Linked DNA regions of Homo sapiens: regions 2 and 3 are each linked to region 1. Evidence: fine-mapped expression QTL. A gene starts in region 1. Each other region holds a variant in brackets. All regions are shown on one strand. Distances are between the middles of the regions.

Region 1 (8,185 bases):
TTCTGCCAGACTGGCCAGCCCCTAGGCATTAAAGCATTACAGACCACAGTCATGCCTAAGCACTTTTTGCATTAAGAATAAGGGTCATTTTGTTTACATTTTATCATATGAAGCTGCTCTTTGTGGGAAAAATGGCTTCCTATATTACAAATGCTTGGCCAAAGAACAACTAACATTAACATTAACACTGATTCTAATCAAAAGTGAAAGTGTTGGTAATTTTATGAAGGTTATTTCTTTCCCTAAAGCAAATAGCTGTCAATTGTCACTTTTAGAACTACCATGATTTATTGGAAGAATAACAACTCAGTAGAATTACTGAATTAATTCCCAAACATTTAAAGGGAAAAGAAAAAAAAATGATAAAAGGGATGGTCTGTATGGAGCAGGGAGGGGAAGGGATGGTTCTGAGGCTAAAAAACAAAAAAACAAAAAACCCTTTACTTCTGTCCTTGTGCATTTTTTTAAATAGAAAAAAGCCACTCTGCATTCCCTGGCCTCAAGCCACTAGGTCACTATGTAAAACATAAACAGGGTCTGTGTTTTGCTGCATTTGAGAAAGATGTAAAGGTGTAAATATGATGGAAGGGGTTTTATTTCCTTTCCCCTCTCAGGAATGGTCTGACAGCCCCAGGCTCGAGAATGTGTCTCTCCCAAGTACTCTGTCACCCTGGTAACCATGGAGACCATGACGATCGATTAGATGCCATCTGATCTCAACCTTATAAAAAAAAAGGCAGCAGATGGCAACCAGGCCACTAGACCTGTCTCAAGAGAGACGAAGAGGAAGAGCGAGAAAGAAAAGGAAGGAGGGAGAAAGGGGAGGAGGTGGGGGTGGGTTGGCGCAGGGAGAAGAGAGCCCAGAAGCAGCTCTGGAAATGAAAATTTTAGAAAAGAATGAAAATAGAAAACAAGGAAAGCAATGGAAAAAAAGAAACTAAAACCCATTGTGTGATAGACCTCTACAGTGAGTTGTGGGAAGATAATTCTACAGAGAAAGCGAATCAGCTGTCTCCTAACTTTCCACTTTTATACAGAATGGTGTGGAACCCGGGCCCCAAGGCTTCTCTGAGGGATACGCACCAAGTTGGCTCTCAGAATCGGTTGGACTTTGATGCATCCAAAAGAGAATTCTGAGACCTGGTTCTCAGAATAAATGTCCCTAATCAGATGAGACCTTTCAGGGGACTGTATGCATCAATACCTGGTATGTTTGTCAGCCCATCCCCAGCAGTGTTCTAATACTCCTTAAAGGAAGAAGCGATAACCAGGTCAGTAGATACCTAAGGTGAAAAGAAGACAAGAGCAGTTAAGTCAATTCTGGTAACCTAGGGGTCTTAGCCAGTGTCCCAGAGTAATGTAATGGCTAATATTGATGAAGTGTTTATGATATGTCAGACACTGCTAAGCACTACATACAGAATATTTAATTTAATCCAGATAACAATACCATAAGTTAGGTGCAATAATTATTCCCATTTTACAGAGAGGACCTGAGGCTTAGAGAGGTTAACTACCTTCATCAAGGGCATACCTAGAATGCAATATGTAAATGTTCAGAACAGCTTACTTATATAGAGAGTTGATTTGCTCACTCTTGTTCTTTCTTTTTCAATCCCCTCCCCTACCTTTTTTTTTGAGATGGACTTTCACTCTGTCACCCAGCCTGGAGTGCAGTAGTGCAAACTCAGCTTACTGCAACCTTCGCCTCCTGGGTTCAGGTGATTCTTCTGCCTCAGCCTCTGGAGTAGTTGAGATTACAGGTGTGCACCACCACATCTGGCTAATTTTTGTATTTTTAGTAGAGACAGGGTTTCACCATGTTGCCCAGGCTGGTCTCGAACTCCCAACCTCAGATGATCCACCCACCTTGGCCTCCCAAAGTGCTGAGATTACAGGCATGAGCCACCGCGCCTGGCCTTCTCCTCCTTTTTATTTATTTATTTTCATTTTTTATTTTTTGAGATGGTGTCTTGCTGCATCAGTCAGGCTGGTCTCAAACTCCTGGGCTCAAGTGAGCCTCTGCCTCAGCCTCCCTAGTAGCTGGGACTATAGGCATGCACTACCACACCTAGCATTTTTCCCTTTTACATTTTATTTCAGATTTTTGCAGATTACAAAACAGGACATGTCCAATATAGAAAACTGCTTAAAACAAGAGAAAGAAAGGGAAAATTATCTACAATCCCATTAGTCAGAGATACGTGTGATAAGCATGTGGATTATGTAATATACATATATATATATAGAGAGAGAGAGAGGGAGACAGACATGTATATTTTAAGCAAATATAGTATTAAATCTTAAATACTGTTTGGTTAACCTACTTTTTTTTGGAACATTATATTATGAAAAACTTTCCATATTTTTGACTCTTCTATTTTATCTGATTTAATGATTATAGCATTCTACTATCTGATGTATCATAATTTTATTTAACTACTTCCTTATTATTGGATTGTATTTCCAGATTTTTGCTACTATAAATAATGCTATGGTGATCATTCTTGTATGTAAACCTTTTTTGTACTCCTCTGACTTTTTTCTTTAGAATGAAAACATACTTGCTAAGTCAAAGTGTATGTTTTCTCAAAACTTCTAAATTGAGGTATAGCATATATACAACAAAGTGAATAAATCTCAAGTGTACTGCGATTTGAATTCTACAAGTGTATAGACAATGGGTACAACCACCACCCAGATCAATGGATTAAACATTTTCCAGAATGCTTTTCATGCCTCTTCCCAGTCAATAGCTATCCCCTGTTCTTGAACTTCATATAAATGGAATCATAGAGTGTGTATTCTTTGGTTTCTGGCTTCCTTCACTCAACATAATGTCTGTGAGATTCATCCATGCTGTGGAGTATAGCAGTAATTCATTCTTTTTATTGCTTCATAGTATCCTTTAAAAAAAAAACTACAATTTATTGATTTATTTTTTTCTGATAGACATTTAGGCTATTCTGAATAAAGCTGTTATGTATATTCTTATACATGTCTTTTGGATGACATATTTATACTTCAAAAAATATAAACTAGGAGAGGCATAACTAAATCATAGAGTAAGGCATACTTTCAGCTTTAAATGCAGAGTAAACATTTTTAAAGTTTTATTTTGCTTTTGGAGAGGGGGCCTACTTTTAAATTGATCTCCAAAACAGCTGTACCAATTTGAACTCCAACTATCCAATGTCATGAGTGTACCCTTCCCCTTCCCGCCTTACCACCAGCTAGTGGGCATTTTCATTCTTCTTAATCTTTGCCAGTGTGAGAAACAAAATGGTATCTCATTGTTTATATTGTGTTTGATGACCAAGAAAATGTTAAAAAATTCTTGCTATGTTACCAGATATTCTTGTTTCTTCTTTTGTAAATTGCCCATATACATCATTGCCCTATTTGCTATTAGCTTTAAGATAAGGCAAAAAGCTTAAATATAATCCATATAGTATGTATAGATCCATTGGCATTGTAAGAAAAATTCATTGGTATTTATAACCAAAAAATATTTACATTCTTTCCATAAGTTGACATCCTGCTCTATATATTTCAGAACGAAGTTAACATTTACAGAACACCAATTACTGAGCACATTTACTCTTTAAAACAGCCCTATTTATTTCATTCTTACAATTTCATTTAACTTCAGAGGTAGCATTTAGTTTTCATGAAAAACTCTAAAGGTATTTAATATTCTGCCTATTTTTACAAGTGCAGAAATCAAAGCTCACGGGGCTCAGGGTCACAAATGATTAAGTGGTGGGACTGGGATTTAAACCCAAGACACCTCAAGTCAAAAGTAAATTATTTTTCTCTTTTCTGTAGATGCCATTGCCTAGGTCAGTGCTCTGGCCTATCATCTGAATGTTTGTATCCTCCTAAAATGTATATGTTGAAATCCTCACCGCCATAGGTGATGCTGTTAGGAACTGGGGGCCCTTGGGAGGTGACTGAGTCTCGTGAAGGCAGGCCATCATGAATGATCAGTGTCCTTATGAGAGCTGCCCCCCAAATTTCCCTCACCTCTTCCACTATGTGAGGACACAGCAAGAAGGCACCATTTTTGAACAAGGAAGTTAGCCCTTACCAGACACCAAATCTGCTAGCACCTTGATCTTGGGCTTCCCAGACTCCAGAAATGTGAGAAATAACATTTCTATTACTTGTAAGTCACTCAGGTATGGTATTTTGTTACAGCTACCCGAACAGACTAAGATAAGCAGTGATTCTCTTTTTTTTTCCCCCACATTTCAAACCCTAAGAGGGCATCTGAATTCTAGAACCCCATCCTTAACTCCCTTCCATTCTCAACACACATCTACCATTCCACTACCAAAGTCCAAAGAGTATCAGGATCTCTGGGCTATCAAGAAGATGGAGAATATGAAAAAAATCCATGTTAGCTCATTTATTTTAGAAACTTTTCTTTGTGTGTGGTGTGTTTTAAAATCTGAGTAATGGTTTAATAAATCCAGAAGTAGAATAAGTAGAAGCAGAAGTGAATCTAGGATCTTTTCCTCTTGATAAGTTACTCCTTTTGGGGTCTGAAGCTTACATAATTTTAGAGGCTTTTTAAAAGAAAAAGATGACAAGAATATTTATACAAAATTAGGTTTGAGTGTTGATTTAAAGTGAGAAAAGAAATTGCTATCAATTACACATTTTAAAAATATTTAACTGCCACAAGAATCACAAAATTAAAAATATATATATATACATGGTACTTAATTGCCCTGACACCCCTATATAATTATGCCTTCATTTTTTGGCTCTATATATTCTTGGGTCACGACTTCATATAACAAAGATTTTTGTAGTATTTTCTATCAAGAGGGTACATATAAAGATAGATTAGTCTTTCCAGTAGCATGGTTGATCAAATTTGTTTTTCATTAAGAATTTGGAAAAGTTTCTGTGAGCTTCATAACTCATTATTTGTACTATCACATAAATGCTTGGGATCACAGTTTTAGGAAATTTCCATCAAATTTTTGTCATATGTGAACTCTAAGATTTCAGAGTATCTCTAATTTGTTTTCGTTGTTGTTACTGTTCAATGACTAATCTTTTTTTCTCTTTGAATTTAATGAATTTACATAAAAAAATTAGGTAGTCATTTTGCATTTAAGGAATAAAAATCTTTAAAAAAATACAAAGAATGGAAGGATTTTAGCCAAGTTTACACTTCTTTTTGCTATAATTTGTAACAATTCAGCTCATCATAACTTAATGCAATGTGCAAATGCAGCACGTATTACGATCACTTAACTAAATTTAAGGAAGTACATTGTTAATAGTGGCCCTCAGAGGAAATAGATTTATCTTCTTGTAAAAACTCCATGGTATATAAACATTACATAATAATGCTACTTAACCACCTCTTGTCTCAAGAATCATTACCCGGCGAGGTGCGGTGGCTCATGCCTGTAATCCCAGCACTTTGGGAGGCTGAGGCGGGCAGATCACGAGGTCAGGAGTTCGAGACCAGCCTGACCAACATGGTGAAACCCCGTCTCTACTAAAAATACAAAAATTAGCCAAGTGTGGTTGCGGGTGCCTGTAATCCCAGCTACTTGGGAGGTTGAGGCAGGAGAATCACTTGAACCCGGGAGGTGGAGGTTGCAGCCGAGATCCAGCCTGGGCAACAGAGCAAGACTCTGGTCTCAAAAAAGAAAAAAACAAAAACAAAACAAAAAAACCACAAATGCTTTAATAGTTTTAAAGCAAAAGCTGTTAGAGTCTAGATAGCTAAAACTATACTTGTGAGTTCAAGCTTACAGATAAGTAGCTCTTAATAAAATATATTTTGATATATGTAGTTCTTTTTTTTTTTTTTTTTTTTTTTTTGAGACAGTCTCGCCCTGTCACCCAGGCTGGAGTGCAGTGACATGATCTCGGCTCACTGCAAGCTCCGCCTCCTGGGTTCACACCCATTCTCCCGCCTCAGCCTCCCAAGTAGCTGGGACTACGGGCGCCCGCCACCACACCCAGTTAATTTTTTTGTATTTTTAGGAGAGACAGGGTTTCACTGTGTTAGCCAGGATGGCCTCGATCTCCTAACCTTGTGATCCGCCTGCCTCAGCCTTCCAAAGTGCTGGGATTACAGGTGTGAGCCACCGTGCCCAGCAAGTAGTTCTTTTAAGTAGTTCTTAATAAAATATCCTTCCTCCCCATGCCCCTACCCTAAATCTTATATTGTTCTTATAAAACTTTGGTCAAGAGTAAAAATATATCCAGGCAGATGTATATGTCATACAATAGCAAGAACAGTAAAGCCCAACTAATGACTTTAAAATATAAGACAATTATAATGTACTCAAAGGTACATAAAAAAAAGCTTTCATGGGGGTAATATTGAAACAGTCACAAAGGTTAAGAAAATAGTGATGTCACCTGGGCACCGTGGCTCACGCCTGTAATCCCAGCACTTCGGGAGGCTGAGGCCGGCAGATCACCTGAGTTCGGGAGTTTGATACCAGCCTGACCAACATGGAGAAACCCCATCTTTACTAAAAATACAAAATTAGTTGGGCGTGGTGGCACATGCCTGTAATCCCAGCTACTAGGGAGGCTGAGGCAGGAGAATTGCTTGAACCTGGGAGGCAGAGGTTGCAGTGAGCCGAGATTGCACCATTGCACTCCAGCCTGCGTAACAAGAGTGAAACTCCATCTCAAAAAAAAAAAAAAAAAAAAAAAAAAAAAAAAGAAAAGAAAATAGTGATATCAAAGTACAAATGGCTGCAATGTTAAAATAGACAAAAGCTACTATGCAAGAGCTTCTTTTAAAATGAAAAATATAGAACACAACACATGAGTCGGTGATTTTCCTGTTCTACTCATGAATTTTAGGTTGGTTAGGTTGACATTTAGAAGAGTTTCTTATCACATCTGATGGTGTCATTCCAACTTCGTAGGGTGGGTCTTCCCCAAGGAACCTCTAATCTTGGTTATTGTACAATTTCAAAGTAGTGCAATATCGCCATGATGTGCTGGGTCATGAAGATGTATCCTGCGTATCAATGGAAACCAGCGTGGAATTGAGCACCTTCCGCTCCTCGGGCTCCAGCATGTAGAGCATTGTGACCAGCAGGTGTTGGTAGTAGAACCAGGACATCTACTTCCAGGCCCGCACCAGCTCCATCCCTGCCAGGCGCCTCCTGCGATGAGGTGGCATTTCAGTCTCTCAATGACTAATCTTAAATATGCTATGAATTGATGGCATTCACTATTAACTAATTTGTGATCTATGTCCTCCTTCTAATGGTGTATTATGGTTTATATTATCTTTGTCAATATAAACATTCCTGTCTAATTATAAATTTAAATATTTTACAAATATATTCGTATAACTCATTCTTTTTTATTGATTAGATCATTAAATAATATAAAAGCCTATTTATTATTTCTATTGGCAATTTATCTCTTCCTCTTAATGATTTACTAATTTTGAATTTTTTTTTTTGAGACGGAGTCTCACTCTGTCGCCCAGGCTGGAGTGCAATGGCGCAATCTCGGCTCACTGCAACCTCTGCCTCCCAAGTTCAAGCGATCCTCCTGAGTAGCTGGAATTACAGGCACGGCACCACGCTCAGCTAACTTTTGTATTTTTAGTAGAGATGAGGTTTCACCATGTTGGTCAGGCTGGTCTCAAACTCCTGGCCTCGTGATCCATCCCCCTCAGCCTCCCAAAGTGCTGGGATTAGAGGCGTGAACCACTGTGCCCGGCTGGAAATGATACTTTTTTAAAAAAATATTTTTTAGAGACAGGGTCTCATTCTGTTGCCCAGGCTGGAGAGCAGTGGCAAAATCATAGCTCACTCCATCTTCAAATTCACAGGTTCAAGTGATCCTCCTGTCTCAGCCTCCTGAGTAGCTGAGACTACAGGCACACACCACCGTGCCAGGCTAATTTTGAAATTTTTGGTAGAGATAGGGTCTCACTATGTTGTGCAGGCTGGTCTCAAACTCCTGGCCTCGGCCTCCCAAAGTGTAAGAATTACAGGCATGAGCCACCACACCCAACTGTTTTTTGTTACAGTTTACTGCTAGATATCAGAATTATTTCTATTGACTTTATATGTAAATCTATGAAAAATAGTTTTATTGTATAGTACAAAAACACAATCATGTACACTGCATCTGCATGTGCATTCCCAATAGGAGAGAACTTCCTTTCAATTAG
Region 2 (8,185 bases), 46 kb before region 1:
TCCTTTTTTTTAATTACAAAACCTGTGCACCTTACTACTGTGTCGTGTCTTTTGTTTCATTGGTAATTTGGCGTCCCAGATGGCTACTGAAATTTGGTGTGTAAGATAATAGACTTTCTGGATGTCACATATTGTTAGAAATCCTTGGAAATCAGTGTTCTATCCCAGCCTAAATGCACTGCCTTTTAAAGAAAAATCTGAAGAACATTTCTCCCTCTTCATAAGCCTTCATTCATGCTGAGATAACACTTTATAGTTAGAATGTCACAGCACCATACCTTAATAAAGATATCTAAAGTACATATACCTCTGTCAACATTAAGTTGATATAAACATAGCAAATATGACGGGAAGAAACAAATAACAAGGGAGTCAGGAGATTTTGTGGGTAGATGCCTGGGAAGAAGGAGCAAAAGACAAAGGGAAGAGAAGTAAAAAGAAAATGGAGTTAGCAGTGAGGTGGACATCATCTGGTCTTCCAAACCAACAACGGTCATTCAAAAAGATTGTTAAGTGGGTGAAAAACATATTTAAAAAGATCTACATTTAATATGGAGAAATTGGCCATTTCCATGTCTCAAACCTTAGCAATAAAACAAAAGAGTATAAATAGAGTTAGGTGTAAAATTCAGGAAGTTAAGGTAGAGAGATATGAAATATGAGGAAAACTAACCGTTAATTATATTTGAATTTAGATAGTAGAGTGTATTGCTTGCTAAGAGTCCAATTTTACATGTTGTCCAAGAGGCACTAAGCTTAGATAATAGTGCATTCATTTAATTCAACAGGTTCATTCCTGAGTGCTCATATTTAATGAAAATGTCAGTGATGTTACTGTTTTTGTTGCTGTTGCTGATGCTATTTCTTACATGGAAGAGTTATATAACTAGGGAATACTGAGTGACATGATGAATTTGCTGTATTCATGGAGTCAATAAATAGAGTGATTCAGTAGAATGGATGAAAAACTTGGCCTATGCAGGCACAAATGCCTCACAGTTTCTCAGGATTAAAATATAGATGCTTATTGGAACTTCCAGAACCACTTCTATTGGTTGAGTATTGCATAAGGATGACAATGACGTATATCAAGAGTCTCAAAGCCAACTGGGCTTTTTAAATTAAAACCAGCAATTTGCATTGCTTTTATTTTTTTCCATTTTTATTTATTTTTATTTCTGTTTTTTATTTTTCCATAAGGTATTGGGGTACAAGTGATATTTGGTTACGTGAGTAAGTTCTTCAGTGGTGATTTGTGAGATTTTGGTTCACCCATCACCCAGGCAGTATACACTGCACCCCATTTGTAGTCTTCTATCCCTCGACCCCCTCCCACTCTTTCACCCCAAGTCCCTAAAGTCCATTGTATCATTCTTATGCCTTTGCATCCTCATAGCTTAGCTCCCACATGTCAGTGAAAACATATGATGTTTGGTTTTCCATTTCTGAGTTGCTTCACTTAGAATAGTAGTCTCCAATCTCATCCAGGTCACTACAAATGCCGTTAATTCATTTCTTTTTATGGCTGAGTAGTATTACATCAAATATATACACCACAATTTCTTTATTCACTCATTGATTGATGGGCATTTGCATTGGTTCCACGATTTTGCAATTGTGAATTGTGCTGCTATAAACCTGCCTGTGCAAGTATCTTTGTCGTATAATGACTCCGTTTCCACTGGGTAGATACCCAGTAGTGGGATTGCTGGATCAAATGGTAGTTCTACTTTTAGTTCTTTAAGGAATCTCCACACTGTTTTCCACATGTAGGTGGGGATGTACTAGTTTACATCCCCACTAGCAGTGTAGAAGTGTTCCCTGATCACTGCACCCACGCCAACATCTACTGTTTTTTGATTTTTTTATTATGGCCATTCTTGCAGGAGTAAGGTGGTATCACATTGCGGTTTTGATTTGCATTTCCCTGATCATTAGTGATATTGAGCATTTATTTTTTATTTTTTTTTTATTTTTTTTGAGACGGGGTCTTGATCTGCTGCTCTGTTGCCCAGGCTGGAGTGCAGTGGCGCGATCTCCGCTCACTGCAAGCTCCGCCTCCCAGGTTCACGCCATTCTCCTGCCTCAGCCTCCCGAGTAGCTGGAACTACAGGTGCCCACCACGACGCCCAGCTAATTTTTTTGCATTTTTAGTAGAGACGGGGTTTCACCATGTTAGCCAGGATGGTCTCGATCTCCTGACCTCATGATCCGCCCACCTTGGCCTCCCAAAGTGCTGGGGAGCATTTTTTCTTGTTTGTTGGGCCATTTGTTTGTCCTTATTTTGAGAATTGTCTATTCATGTCCTTAGCCCACTTTTTGATGCGATTGTGTTTTCTTACTGATTTGTTTGAGTTCATTGTAGATTCTGGATATTAGTCCTTTGTCAGATGTACAGATTGTGAAGATTTTGTCCCACTCTGTGGATTGTCTGTCTACTCTGCTGACTGTTCCTTTTGCTGTGCAAAAGCTCTTTAGTTTAATTAAGTCTCAACTATTTATCTTTGTTTTTATTGCATTTGCTTTTGGATTCTTGGTCATGAAATCCTTGCCTAAGAATGTCTAGAATGGTTTTTCCAATGTTGTCTTCTAGAATTTTTATAGTTTCAGGCATTAGATTTAAGTCCTTAATCCATCTTGAGTTGATTTTTATGTAAGGTGAGAGATGAGGATCCAGTTTCATTCCCCTACATGTGGCTAGCCAATTATCCCAGCACCATTTGTTGAAAAGGGTGTCCTTTCCCCACTTTATGATTTTGTTTGCTTTCTTGAAGACCAGTTTGCTGTAAGTATTTGGGTTTATTTCTGGGTTCTCTATCCTGTTCCATTGATCTATGTACCATTTTTATACCAGTACCATGCTGGCTTGTTGACTATGGCCCTACAGTATAGTTTGTAATCAGGTGGTGTGATGCCTCCAGATTTGTTCTTTTTGCTTAGACTTGCTTTGGGTATGTGGGCTCTTGTTTGGCTCCATATGAATTTTAGAATTGTTTTTTCTAATTTTGTGAAGAATGATGGTGGTATTTTGATGGGGATTGCAATGAATTTGTAGATTGCTTTTGGCAGTGTGGTCATTTTCACAATATTGATTCTACCTATCCATGAGCATGGGATGTGTTTACATTTGTTTGTATCATCTATGATCTCTTTCAGCAGTGTTTTGTAGTTTTCCTTGTAGAGGTTTTTTGACTCCTTGGTTAGGTATATTCCTAGGTATTTTATTTTTTTGGCAGCCCTTGAAAAAGGGGCTGAGTTCTTGATTTGATTCTCTGCTTGGTCGCTGTTGTATAGAAGAGCTACTGATTTGTGTACATTAATCTTGTATCCGGAAACATTGCTGAGTTATTTTACTAGTTCTAGGAGCTTTCTGGAGGAACCTTTAGGGTTTTCGAGGTAAATGAGCATATGGTCAGCAAACAGTGACAGTCTGACTTCCTCTTTACTGATTTGGATGCCCCTTATTTCTTTCTCTTGTCTGACTGCTCTGGCTAGGACTTCCAGTACTATGTTGTAGAGGAGTGGTGAGAGTGGGCATTGTTACCTTGTTCCAGTTCTCAGAGAAAATGCTTTCAACTTTTCCTCATTTGGTATTATGTTGGCTGTGGGCTTGTCGTAGATGGCTTTTATTACATTGAGGTATGTACCTCATATGCCAGTTTTGCCGAGAGTTTTAATCATAAAGGGATGCTGGATTTTGTCAAATGCTTTTTCTGCATCTATTGAGATGATAGTGTGATTTTTGTTTTAATTCTGTTTATGTGGTGTACCACATTTACTGACTTGCAT[C/ATATTAAACCATC]ACTGCATCCCTGGTATGAAACCCACTCAATCGTGGTGGATTATCTTTTTGATATGTTGCTGGATTTGGTTAGCTAGTATTTTGTTAAGGATTTTAGCATCTATGTTCATCAAGGATATTGGTCTGTAGTTTTCTTTTTTGGTTTTGTCCTTTCTGGTTTTGGTATTAGGGTAACGCTAGCTTCATAGAATGAATTAGGGAGGGTTCCTTCTTTCTCTATCTTGTGGAATAGTGTCAAAAGGATTGGTACCGATTCTTCCTTGAATGTCTGGTAGAATTCTGCTGTGAATCCATCTGGTCCCAGGCACTTTTTGTTGGTAAATTTTTTTTTTTTTTTTGAGACAGAGTTTCGCTCTTGTTGCCCAGGCTAGAGTGCAATGGTACGAACTCAGCTCACTGCAACCTCCATCTCCTGGGTTCAAGCGATTCTCCTGCCTCAGCCTCCCAAGTAGCTGGGATTACAGGCATGCACCACCACACCCAGCTAAATTTGTATTTTTAGTAGAGATGGGGTTTCACCATGTTGGTCAGGGTAGTCACGAACAGTAATTTTTTAATTACCATATCAGTCTCACTGCTTGTTATTGGTCTGTTCAGAGCATCTAATTTTTCCTGATTTAAGCTAGGAGGGTTGTATTTTTCCAGGAATTTATCCATCTCTTCTAGGTTTTTTAGTTTATGTACGTAAAGGTGTTCATAGTAGCCTTGAATGATCTTTTGTATTTCAGTGGTATCAGTTATAATATCTCCTGTATCGTTTCTTAATGAGGTTGTTTGGATTTTCTTTCTTCTTTTCTTGGTTAATCTTGCTAATGGTCTATTAATTTTATTTATCTTTTCAAAGAACCAGCTTTTTGTTTCATTTACCTTTTGTATTTTTTTGTGTGTTTCAGTTTCATTTAGTTCTGCTCTGATCTTGGTTATTTTTGTTTTCTTCTGCTGGGTTTGGGTATGGTTTGTTCTTGTTTCTTTAGTTCCTTGAGGTGTGACCTTAGAATGTCAGTTAGTCTCTTTCAGTCTTTTTGATACAGGCATTTGGTGTTATGATCTTCCCTCTTAGCACCACCTTTGCTATATCCCAGAGGTTTTGATAGGTTGTGTCATTACTGTCGTTCAGTTTGAATAATTTTTTAATTTCCATCTTGATTTTGTTTTTGACCCAATGCTCATTCAGAAACAGGTTATTTAATTTCCATGTATTTGTATGGTTTCGAAGGTTCCTTTTGGAGTTGATTTCCAGTTTTATTCCACTGTGGTCTGAGAGAGTGTTTGATATAATTTCAATTTTCTTAAATGTATTGAGACTCTTATGGCCTATCATATGGTCTATCTTGGAGAAAGTTCCATGAGTTATTGAATAGAATGTGTATTCTGTGGTTGTTGGATGAAATGTTCTGTATATATCTATTAAGTCCATTTGTTCCAAGGTATCGTTTAAATCCATTGTTTCTTTGTTGACTGTCTTTCTTGATGACCTGTCAAGTGCTGTCAGTGGAGTATTGAAGTCCCCCACTATTATTTTGTTGCTGTCTATCTCATTTCTTAGGTCTATTAGTAATTGTTTTATAAATTTGGGAGCTCCAGTGATAGGCACATATATGTTTTGGATTGTGATATTTTCCTCTTGCACAAGGCCTTTTACTGTTATATAATGTCCCTCTTTGTCTCTTTTAACTGCTGTTGCTTTAAAGTTTGTTTTGTCAGATATAAGAATAGCTACCCTGCTCACATTTGGTGTCTATTTGCATGAAATGCCTTTCCCCCTGCTCTTTACTTTAAGCTAATATGAGTCCTTATGTGTTAGGTTAGTCTCCTGAAGGCAGCAGGTAGTTGGCTGGTGAGTTCTTATCCGTTCTGAGGTTCTGTATCTTTTACGTGGAGCATTTAGGCCATTTACATTCAATGTTAGTATTGAGATGTGAGGTACTGTTGCATTCATTGTGCTATTTTTTTGCCTGTGCACCTTGGATTTTTTGTTTTATGTTTTTGCCTTTTAACTTGTTTTTTGGTTTTATAGGTCCTGTGTGATTTATGCTTTAAAGAGTTTCTGTTTTGATGTGTTTCCAGGATTTGTTTCAAGATTTAGAGCTTCTTTTAGCAGTTCTTGTAGTGGTGGCTTGGTATATCGACGTCTCTCACCAATTGTTTGTCTGAGAAAGACTGTATCTTTCCTTCATATATGATGCTTAGTTTCGCTGGATACAAAATTCTTGGCTGATAATTGTTTTGTTTGAGGAGGCTGAAGATAGGTCCCCAGTCCCTTCTATCTTATAGGGTTTCTGCTGAGAAATCTGCTGTTAATCTGATAGATTTTCCTTTGTAAGTTACCTGGTGCTTCTCTTTCACCGCTCTTAAGATTCTTTACTTTGTCTTAACTTTAGATAACCTGATGACAATGTGCTTAGGCAATGAGCTGTTTGTGACGAATTTCCCAGATGTTCTTTGTGCTTCTTGTATTTGGATGTCTAGGTCTCTAGCAAGGTGAGGGAAGTTTTCCTCGATTATTCCCCCAAAATGTTTTCCAAGCTTCTAGAATTCTCTTCTTCCTCAGGAACACCAATTATTCTTAGGTTTGGTTATTTAACATAATCCCAGACTTCTTGGAAGCTTTGTTCATATTTTCTTAGTCTTTTTTATTTCTCTTTGTTGGGTTAGGTTAATTCGAAGACCTTGTCTTCGAGTTCTGAATTTCCTTCTTCTACTTGTTAATTCTATTGCTGAGACTTTCCAGAGCATTTTGCATTTCTATAAGTGTCTCCAATGTTTCCTGAATTTCTTATTGTTTTTTCTTTAAGCTATTTCTTTCCTTGAATATTTTTCCCTTCACTTCTTGTATCATTTTTCGGATTTCCTTGCATTGGGCTTTGTCTTTCCCTGGTGCCTCCCTAATTAGCTTAATAACTAACCTCCTGAATTCTTTTTCAGGTAAATCAAGGATTTCTTCTTGGTTTCGATTCATTGCTGGTGAACTAGTATGATTTTTGGGGGGTGTTAAAGAGCCTTGTAACCAGAGGTGGTTTTCTGGTTCCTTCTCATTTGGGTAGGCTCTGTCAGAGGGAAGGTCTAGGGCTGAAGGCTGTTGTTCAGATTCTTTTGTCCCACAATATGTTCCCTTGATGTAGTACTCTCCCCTTTTTCCTGTGGATGTAGCTTCCTGTGAGCCAAACTGCAGTGATAGTTGTCTCTCTTCTGGGTCTAGCCACTCAGCGAGTCCACCTGGCTCCGGGCTGGTACTGGGGGTTGTCTGCACAGAGTCCTGTGATGTAAACTGTCTCTGCGTCTCTCAGCCGTGGATACCAGCACCTGTTCCAGTGGAGGTGGCAGGGGAGTGCAATGGACTCCGTGAGGGTTCTTAGCTTTGCTGGTTTAATGCTCTATTTTTGTGCTGGTTGGCCTCCTGCCAAGAGATGGTGCTTTCCAGAGAGCATCAGCTATGGTAGTACGGAGAGGAACCGATGGTGGGTGGGGCCCTAGATCTCCCAAGATTATATGCCCTTTGTCTTCAGCTACCAGGGTGGGTAGGGGAGGACCATCAGGTTGGGTCAGGGCTAGGCCTGTCTGAGTTCAGACTCTCCTTGAGGGGGTCTTGCTGTGGCTGAGTATTTGGGGTGTCTCCTGGGTCCTACAGGAGCAGTCAGATTCCTTCAGAGGGTCTGTGGGTCCTCTTGGGATTGCTGGCTTGTTCTTGCAGTCAATCTGGAGCTAAAATTCACAATGCAAGCCTCCGCACACTGTCTGTCCATCTGAATCATCTAGTTCTGCCTCCCGTCTGGTCTGCCATAATGATCTCTCTCCCTCTCCATTGCTTTTAGAAAATAGGAAACCAAAGTAGATTACAGGGAATCAAATTTGATACACTTAATCTACTCAGGCTCAGAAAGGAGAGGTCACAAATCCTAAACCATTCTGAAAATCATCAGTATTAGAATGCATTCAACACATGGTTGCTGAGGACCTGCTTTGTACTGAGCACTGTTGTAGAGATAATACAGTGTTTAAACCAGACAAAAATTCTAGCTTGTGGAGCTTGCATTCCAGTGAAGACTTTTCCTTCTTGGCAGCAGTTCCAGATGGGATGGGTGGGGTGATGGCAAGGAGAAAGAGAATGAAGTTGTAGATTGTGGAAATTGCACCCTTGCTCTATTTTGTGATCATGAAATAAAAACATAAGCAATGTGATGTCCAGGCCTTATGACTCATGCCTGTAATCTCAACACTTTGGGAGGCCAAGATGGAAGGATTATTTGAGTCCAGGCATTCAAGACTAGCCTGGGCAACATAATGAGACCTCATCTGTACAAAATATTTTTAAAAATTAGCTGGCACGGTGGCATGCACCTGTAATCCCAGCTACTTGGGAGGCTGAGGTGGGAGGATCTCTAGAGCCAGGGAGGTC
Region 3 (8,185 bases), 42 kb after region 1:
ATCAACACTTGAGACTGTATGCAAAAGAAAAACAGGAACTATTTGGTTTTCAGTTGTGAGGCATAGAACTATTACATGATTTGACTAAAGCATGTAGGCACCCCCACAACAGTCTTATGAATAAATAGACACTCATCATGCCCCAGTACCTGAACATGTTAACAGATGTTATAAAATCAGTAGGCAATAGCCTGGCAAATTCAAAATTACTGGAAATTTTCATTGTGATTCATTGGTGGACCAGTGCTAGAACTTTATCATAAGCAATCAGACTAGGTCCTTGTGGAGATTTTGGATTTTCCCATGCAAAATGCTCGTTTTTGGTTTCTCATCAACTTTCCAGCCATCTCTTTCTACCATCTGTTGAGCCCAAGGAATGCACACTTTCTTTTAGAACCACTAGTAAATACTAGGGAAACACTAACATGGAATATAGCTCAAATCCAAATGATTTTTTTTGGTTCTGTTTTTTTTTTTTGTTGTTTGTTTGTTTGTTTTTGAGATGGAGTCTTGCTCTGTTGCCCAGGCTGGAGTGCAGTGGCATGATCTCAGCTCACGGCAACCTCTGCTTGCCGGGTTCAGGCAATTCTCCTCCCTCAGCCTCCCGAGTAGCTGGGACTACAGGTGTGTGCCACCATGCCTGGCTAATTTTTTGTATTTTTGGTAGAGGCGGGGTTTCACCATGCTGGCCAGGCTGGTCTCGAAATTCTGACCTCATGATCCGCCCGCCTCGGCCTCCCAAAGTGCTGAGATTACAGGCGTGAGCCACTGTGCCCGGCCCCAAATGATTGTTTAATACTTTATTAAGGATTGTCTTGAGAACATGAATGAAGATAATGATGAGTTAACTGCAGGGAAAAAAATGTAAGGTTGGTGAAATCTGCTTAGTTGATCCTAATATTTCATCCTTTCTATTTCCTGAAATACAACCCCCACCATACACTCCTGTGGTACTCTCATGGTACACTTGGCTGTCACAAAGAAGACTGGCAGCTCACAACTTAAATTGGTTGTGAAGACTTCAAAGAGGAACTCCCCCCAGGACTCTCTGGGGAGCCAGGAGGGGGCACTCAAGGGATGATTCATGAATGGTAGCGTTGGATCCTATGACAAAAGAAGTGGTTTTATAAGATTGGGATAGGGGTAGCTGCTTTCCTTGGTACCTCAACCCTCAAATCACACTATAGAGGTGACTCCTTCCTTTGTTTAAGTAAAAACTAGATCTCCTTGTTGGAATCACTGTGCTTGTGTGTGTGTGTGTGTGTCTGTGTGTGTGTGTGCATATGTGTGTGTGTGTGCATGTAAGTGCATGTGTATGCAGGCCGAAAAAAAGAGGCTGAGGTCAGGCGCAGTGGCTCATGCCTGTAATCCCAGCACTTTGGGAGGCCTAGGTGGGAGGATTGCTGAGCCCAGGAGTTCGAGACCAGCCTGGGCAACATAACGGGACCCCATCTCAAAAAATAAAAGTAAAAGAAGCTGAAAAGCAGAATATAAGTAAATCCATAAATAATTGTACTGAAGGAAATTACCATCAAATAAGTCTTGTAGTAAATACAATTAAAAGAAAGTTGCTTTATTTCCCTGTTTTTATTCGTGAAGCTGAGCAAGACAGAATGTTTAATGGAAAATAGACTGGACTAAACAGGCAACAATTTCCCTGTAGGTCAGAGAAGCCTGTTTCTCCTTAAGTCTCCTAACACCTCTTATACCTCTCTCTACTTCTTTCAGATATTTGAAGTTCTTTGTACTACAAATATCTGTTAAGAAAGGAAAGAACACTTAATGATTATGATTTATTTGTGTCTCTATTATAGCAACTGTTGATTTACCCCCTGTATTAGTTGTCTCTGGGTCAGACAACCCCTCTCTATTAATAAACTTCTTGAGGTCAGATAGCATTCTTTCTCATTTTTCAGTCTCTCACAGCACACAGTGCTCCTCCTTTCATGTGGCAGGTACTCAGTAAATGTTTCTTGATTTATGAATAGTATCCCTTTAAATACTTGAAGGCTGCTATCAGTTTTCCCCAAGCCTCTTCAGGCTAAAAATTCCAAATTCTCCACTGCTCGGTGTACAATAAACACCCTTCTTTTAACACCTTGTGCATGTCAGAGGACTGCCCCCAACCCTGGCACTTTGGTCCCCTAGACAGAGTTAAATGATCAACGTGAGGTTGTTTTATCCAGCCCCGTATTCCTTGACCGCCCCAATTACCTCAGCACCTGGGGACTCAAGAAAGCTGGTGGAGACCAAAAATCCTGTGCTTTCACAGGAACTTTGGTTAATCAGGTCTCTCTCACCCTATCCTTGTGGAGACTAAATGTTTAAAACTGAATTCAGAGCTTCACATTTATTTCTGTTAAAATTCATTTTGTGATAGTTTCATCCCCGTTCTCCAAACTGTAATGACCTTTCTGTATTGCAATTATCTCACTAGGTATCAATCCCAGCTATGTGACATCTGAAAATGGTCCAACAAGCACTACACACGTCCAGGTAAAAGAATATGAAAAAGTATTAGGCAAGAGAGGATAAAGTATTAGGCTGGAACACGTAAAACTACCATTTTTATAGGTCAAAAGTGCTCACATATCACCAGTATTTAATGCTGCAGCCTAAGGTATTGTTCCAGGACTTCCAAAATGGCAGGGAGGCTTCACTTGAACTTCTCTTCCTGCGACTGCTTAAACGAGTGCTACTGTGCCTCACTGCAGCCTGTGCAGACTGCATTTCCTCCTGTTGTCATGAAAGGCATGTTGATGCTCATTATCCATTGCTTTGCTGAAAGCCTCTCAGAGTCAAGGGGAAGAGCAAAAGCTCCAGAGCCAGCCTGCCTGTTGAGCTCTGGCTCTGTTACACTGGCTGTGTGACCTCTGGCAAGTTCATTGACTCCCCTGTGCCTCTGTTTTCTCATCTGGAAATAGAGATAATGGTAGTACTGTTGCTGAATTTTACTCCTTAGTTCAGCTAAAACCTGGCTTCTTGTCACACAACCAGGAAAACTTAGGCACGTGGACACATCAAAGGGTGTGTAGAGCAGGATTGTATTGGGTGAAAGGTGAAAAATGAAAAAGAGGCCAGGCGCAGTGGCTCACGACTGTAACCCCAACACTTTGGGAGGCCTAGACGGGCGGATCACTTGAGGTAAGGAATTCGAGACTAGCCTGCCCAACATGGCGAAACCCCGTCTCTACTAAAAATACAAAAAATTAGCCGGGCATGGTGGCAGGCGCCTGTAATCCCAGCTACTTGGGAGGCTGAGGCAGGAGAATCGCTTGAACCCAGGAGGCGGAGGTTGCAGTGAGCTGAGATCACGCCACTGCACTCCAGCCCGGGTGACAAGAACGAAACTCCATCTCAAAAAAAAAAAGAAAAGAAAAAAAAGATCTCAGCAATGTGTGATGGACCCCTGCTAACAGGCCCTCTACCTCACTGATTGATTCCCAGGTCACCGCAGGAGCTGAAGAGAGCAGGCTCTTCCCATGCATAATGTGTGAATTTCCTGTGGCTCCACCCACTTCCCCCAGTGCACACGCCAGGGTCTAGTCAGCTGTGTGCATGCACAGACAAGCCCTGGGCATCTAGCCCTCATCTGCACAAAAGCATCTGATGTAAACACTTTTGAAGCCGGTCAGAGATTCTCTGGGACTCCTTTTTATCTGCCTAGGATTTGACTGTCTCAGGACCTGCCTCACAGGATTCTTTGAGGCCTGAAGAAATGGAGTGCTTGGAGACACGCTGGCAGGTGGTGCTCAGTATATTATTAGTATAACATTTTTCCCTGGAAAATCAGGCTGAGTGCAGGGCTTTTCACTCCTTTATTCCATCAAGTATTCATAAACTACCTAATTTAATTAAATCAACCCAGAATTTTCCCGGGTATCAGCATCAAGCTCACAGGGTGGCAGATTCTGAAATATGTATTTCCCCACGTTAAAAATAAGCACACTGGTCCTTCTCTCAGCTTTCAGGCAGGTTCTTGTGCCCTTTCACCCAAGGTTGAGGTAAGGGTTTCCCAATCACATCTGCACATTTTTCATCCAGCAGCAGATTTGAGCCCATGAAAAACAAGGAGGGGGCTCTTAGTATTTATTCAACTAGTTAGTGCTCAAATTCTTTCCTAGCCAATATGATGGTATCCATTATCATTAGAAAATCATTTTCCTTGATAGAGAAAATTAAAAAAAATTATGAAATGAATTGTTCTGCCTTCTTTGTGCTGCTGTTAACACTAAATTGACAAATGGCCATATGCTTCCTTGTCTTTCCAGCACCAAGCATAGCTAAAAAGCTTTTTCAATTGTCGTTGGCATGCTTCACAAAACCTTGCCTAGTTCTGACCTTTACCATGCAGGAATAATACCTACTTGTGTCATTCTGTGTTAGCCCTCAGCTCAGTGTTCTTCATTCACCTACGCAGATCCTTTAAATACCTGAGATCATCTGGGAGCTCCCTCTATGGACACACTGTTTCCCATTTTTCTCTCTTATCACGATAATTTATGACTAAAGAGTTAGAATTTCTGTTTAGAACCTGCCATTCCTCTTAAGTCACTCGGTCTTTTTGAAATCAGACTACATGGTCACAGCTATTTTTTCTCCAAACTTTTTTGAATTCTATTTTCTTAAAACCTAAATTAGATGTTAGCACTTCAACAAACATTTTCTTCCTATACTATAATATGATGGTCCCTTGTATATGACATTGCTGTCAATTTCTCATCTTTCTTCCCAGTTCCTCAGTTTTGGTCAGTGGAGAGCAAACTGGTCAGTGGAGAGTAACTGTCCTTCATTGCATCTTTCAACTTCTGAGAGATTGAATCACTGGCAAGGAAAGTCAAGAATTTATTAAATATCATGGGGCTTTTTGAAGGCAGGCAGAATGAGACTCCTATTAATCATTTTAAGTAAGCTTTT[T/A]AAAAGTTATAATATATGTACAGAAAAGGTCCGAAATCATAAGTGTAGAGCTAGAGCTCAATCTATTTACTTAGTTATTTATTTATTTTTGCAACAAGGTCTCACTGTCATCCAGGCTGGAGTGCAGTGATGCCATCTTGACTCACTTCAGCTTCAACCTCCCGAGCTCAAGTGATCCTCCCACCTCAACCTCCTGAGTAGCTGAGACTACAGGTGCGCTCCACCTTGCCTGTCAAATTTTTGTATATTTTTTGTAGAGATGGGTTTCACCATGTTGCCCAGGCTGATCTCCAACTCCTGGCCTCAAGCGATTCACCCATCTTGACCTCCCAGAGTGCTGGAGTTACAGGCACGAGCCACTGCATCCTGCAAGCTCAGTGAATTTCTGTGAAGTGAACACACACATCTAACTACCTAATTACAAAACCTATCAGCTCCACGGAAACTTTCCTCTTGCCTCATAAATTAGTTTTAATGGAATTATAATCTGTACTGGGAAGGTAACAATTACCATAATAGGAGTAACCATTTCTTGAGAACTTAACTATGTGCCAAGCACTGTGCTAAACAATTTATATGTATATAAGCTCCACAGCTCTGTGAGGTGGGTCTCGTTATTTTCCCCATTTTAAAGATAAGAAACTGAAGCTGGGAGGAAATAGGGGGATACTGGTTAACGTCAGAGACCATAAGTCTGTGAGATCTATTGCAGAGCAGGGTGACTACAGCTAACAATATATTGTTTATTTCAAACTTGCTAAGAGAATAAATTTCAAATGTCTCACCATGAAAAATAATGTCAGGTAATAGATATGTTAATTAGATTGATTTAATCATCCCACATTGTATATCAAAACATCACATTATACCCCATAAACATATACAATTATCTTTCTATTAAAATAATATTAATTTTAAAATAATAAATTAAAAAACACAAAGAAATCACTCTCACAAAAAGGCTCTGGCTGTTGAATGGTATATAGTGGCTGCCTCAGCTACTGGGAACATGAAAATTGTTTCCCACGATCCAGTAAATTTTATAAAAGCCATAATATGTAACAATAACAGAATGGGAGCAAGAAAATTGTTTCTACATATATTATGAGACAGGAATGAACACTAGTTTTCAACCGGAAATGTCCATGACTCAGAATGTCCTGTTTCCTGGGAGTTCTAGCTAACTTAAATGTTACTGTGATCATTTGTACTTGCTGACCACATAGTGTGACGTGGCATAAGGGGGTGTTCAATAGATCTTGCTTGAAAGCTGAAAAGAACACGAAACTGAAGCCTAGAGAGGTTAGATTACTTGCCCAACATCACTAGCTGGAATTCAAACTCAGGTCTAGCTAATTCCGGAGACTGCATTCTTAACCATTATAATAGACACATGGTCCACAGCTTCCACTTGGCTGGCCAGGCCGTAGATCAGGGCTTCTCAACTTCCACACTATTGACATTTGGGGCTGAAAGTTTCTTTGGGGCTGTCTTCTGCATTTTAGGACGTTTATCAGCCTTCCTAGCGTCAACCCACTAGATGCCAGAAGCATCTTCATCTCCAACCAGTCATGATGTCAGAGGTGCTTGAGCCAGAGCGACTCCATCTTGAATAGGGGCTGGGTGAAATAAGGCTGAGACCTGCTGGGGTGCATTCCCAGTAGGTTAGGCATTCTTAGTCACAGCATGAGATAGGAGGTTGGCACAAAATACAGGTCATAAGGACCTTGCTGATAAAAACAGCAAGAAAGAAGCTGGCAAAAACTCACCAAAACCAAGATCCCAAAGAAAGTGACTGCTGGTCATTCTCATTGCTCATTATATGCTAATTCTAATACATTAGCATGTTAAAAGACACTTTCATCAGCACCATGACAGTTTACAAACATCATGGCAACATCCAGAGTTACCCTATATGGTCTAAAAAGGGGAGGAACCCCCAGTTCTGGGAATTGCCCACCACTTTCCTGAAAAACTCATGAATAATCCACCCCTTGCTTAGCATACAATAAAGAAGAAACTGTAAGTATACTCAGTTGAGCAGCCCATGCTGCTGCTCTGCCTATAGAGTAGCCATTTTTTTTTTTTTTGAAATGGAGTCTTGCTCTGTTGCCCAGGCTGGAGTGCAGTGGTGTGATCTTGGCTCACCGCAACCTCTGTTTCCTGGGTTAAAGCGATTCTCCTGCCTCGGCCTCCCAAGTAGCTGGGATTACAGGCGTGCGCCACTGCGGCCAGCTAATTTTCATATTTTTAGTAGAGACAGGGTTTCACCATGTTGGCCAGGCTGGTCTCGAACTCCTGACCTCAGGTGATCCACCCGCCTCGGCCTCCCAAAGTGCTGGGATTACAGGCGTGAGTCACAGCGCCCAGTCTGCCATTCTTTTATTCCTTTACTTTCTTAATAAACCTTGCTTTCACTTCACTCTGTGGACTCGCCCTGAATTCTTTCTTGTGCAAGGTCCAATAACCCTCTCTTGGGGTCTGGATCAGGACCCCTTTCTGGTAACAATGATAACCAAAAACATCTCCAGACATTGCCACATGTTTCATGAGGGGTACAACTGCCCCTAGTTGAGAAGCGCTAGTATAGACAGTCCCATACTTTCACGCCTCCCTTCTCCCTCCTCATTCATTAGCTGAGTCCATCCTCAGTCAAATGGATACTAAGATAGGTGTGCACCTTTCTGACAGCCGGTGCTATTCCAAAACCCTAGGATTCATCAGTTTCTTTTGAACTCCTGCCCTGCAGTGACAAGCTTCACTGCTTGGGTTGTATTTAACAAGCTGAATTAAAAGTTCTGCTTCATTTCATCATCCAAATACATTCATGGCCGTGCAGTCTTCTGTAGCCACAGATATCAGTGCTCCTGCCAACAACTGGCACAACTCCTGTCTTGTTTCCTTTTCACCTTGTTATAGAAAATCACCAGAAACTTCCTCCCAAACACTTCCTTCTTTTCCCTTGCACTCACCATCCTCCATATAGATAACTGTATGTTAGAGTCATGGAAGAAACAGCTGGTATACGTAAGGGCAATTTGAGAAGCAGTTTTTAAAGATCTTACTTACAAAGTGTAGAGATGATTAGGGGAAACTGAGGCTGGATAATGTAGCAGCTTTAGTGGCAACCACACAGAGTTGTTACAACTCCTTGGTCTGAAGGGGAAAGAGGAAGGTGTGGTTACTTGAACCCAGAGTTTCTCCATGGTGGCTCTCATTGGTACAAGCCAAAGAAAAGGGATGGGAGCCCCATGACGCAGTCTGTACT

Which allele goes with the higher level. Alleles are on the strand shown, and positions count from the first base shown. SD is a standard deviation of normalised expression in the study named.
As copies of C replace ATATTAAACCATC in region 2, the expression in cerebellar hemisphere of the gene that starts at base 4,274 in region 1 goes down (small effect, 0.40 SD a copy in GTEx).
For the expression in cerebellum of the gene that starts at base 4,274 in region 1, allele A in region 3 goes with a higher level than allele T (moderate effect, 0.54 SD a copy in GTEx).

Evidence for each region. PIP is the estimated chance that this variant, and not a neighbour inherited with it, causes the effect.
Region 2: its variant is the best candidate, but not a certain one, in a credible set for the expression of LINC01649 in cerebellar hemisphere (GTEx, PIP 0.50).
Region 3: its variant is the best candidate, but not a certain one, in a credible set for the expression of LINC01649 in cerebellum (GTEx, PIP 0.75).

The regions. Positions count from the first base shown.
Region 1 is chr1:115,915,465-115,923,649 of GRCh38, reverse strand. It overlaps LINC01649 (long intergenic non-protein coding RNA 1649), which reads right to left and starts at 4,274. Exons shown (of 3, transcript NR_125969.1): 1 at 4,091-4,274; 2 at 1,205-1,283. LOC101928977 (a long non-coding RNA gene) reads left to right here. Exons shown (of 5, transcript NR_125970.1): 5 at 1,038-1,077. It also overlaps the pseudogene LOC101928952.
Region 2 is chr1:115,961,099-115,969,283 of GRCh38, reverse strand. All of the region lies in intron 1 of LOC101928977 (a long non-coding RNA gene), which reads left to right. Among named protein-coding and RNA genes, the nearest start is that of SLC22A15, 11 kb to the left of the region's middle. The variant C/ATATTAAACCATC (reference allele first, on the strand shown) is at 3,790.
Region 3 is chr1:115,873,043-115,881,227 of GRCh38, reverse strand. No RefSeq gene overlaps it. Among named protein-coding and RNA genes, the nearest start is that of NHLH2, 36 kb to the right of the region's middle. RefSeq lists an enhancer at 788-1,327. The variant T/A (reference allele first, on the strand shown) is at 4,918.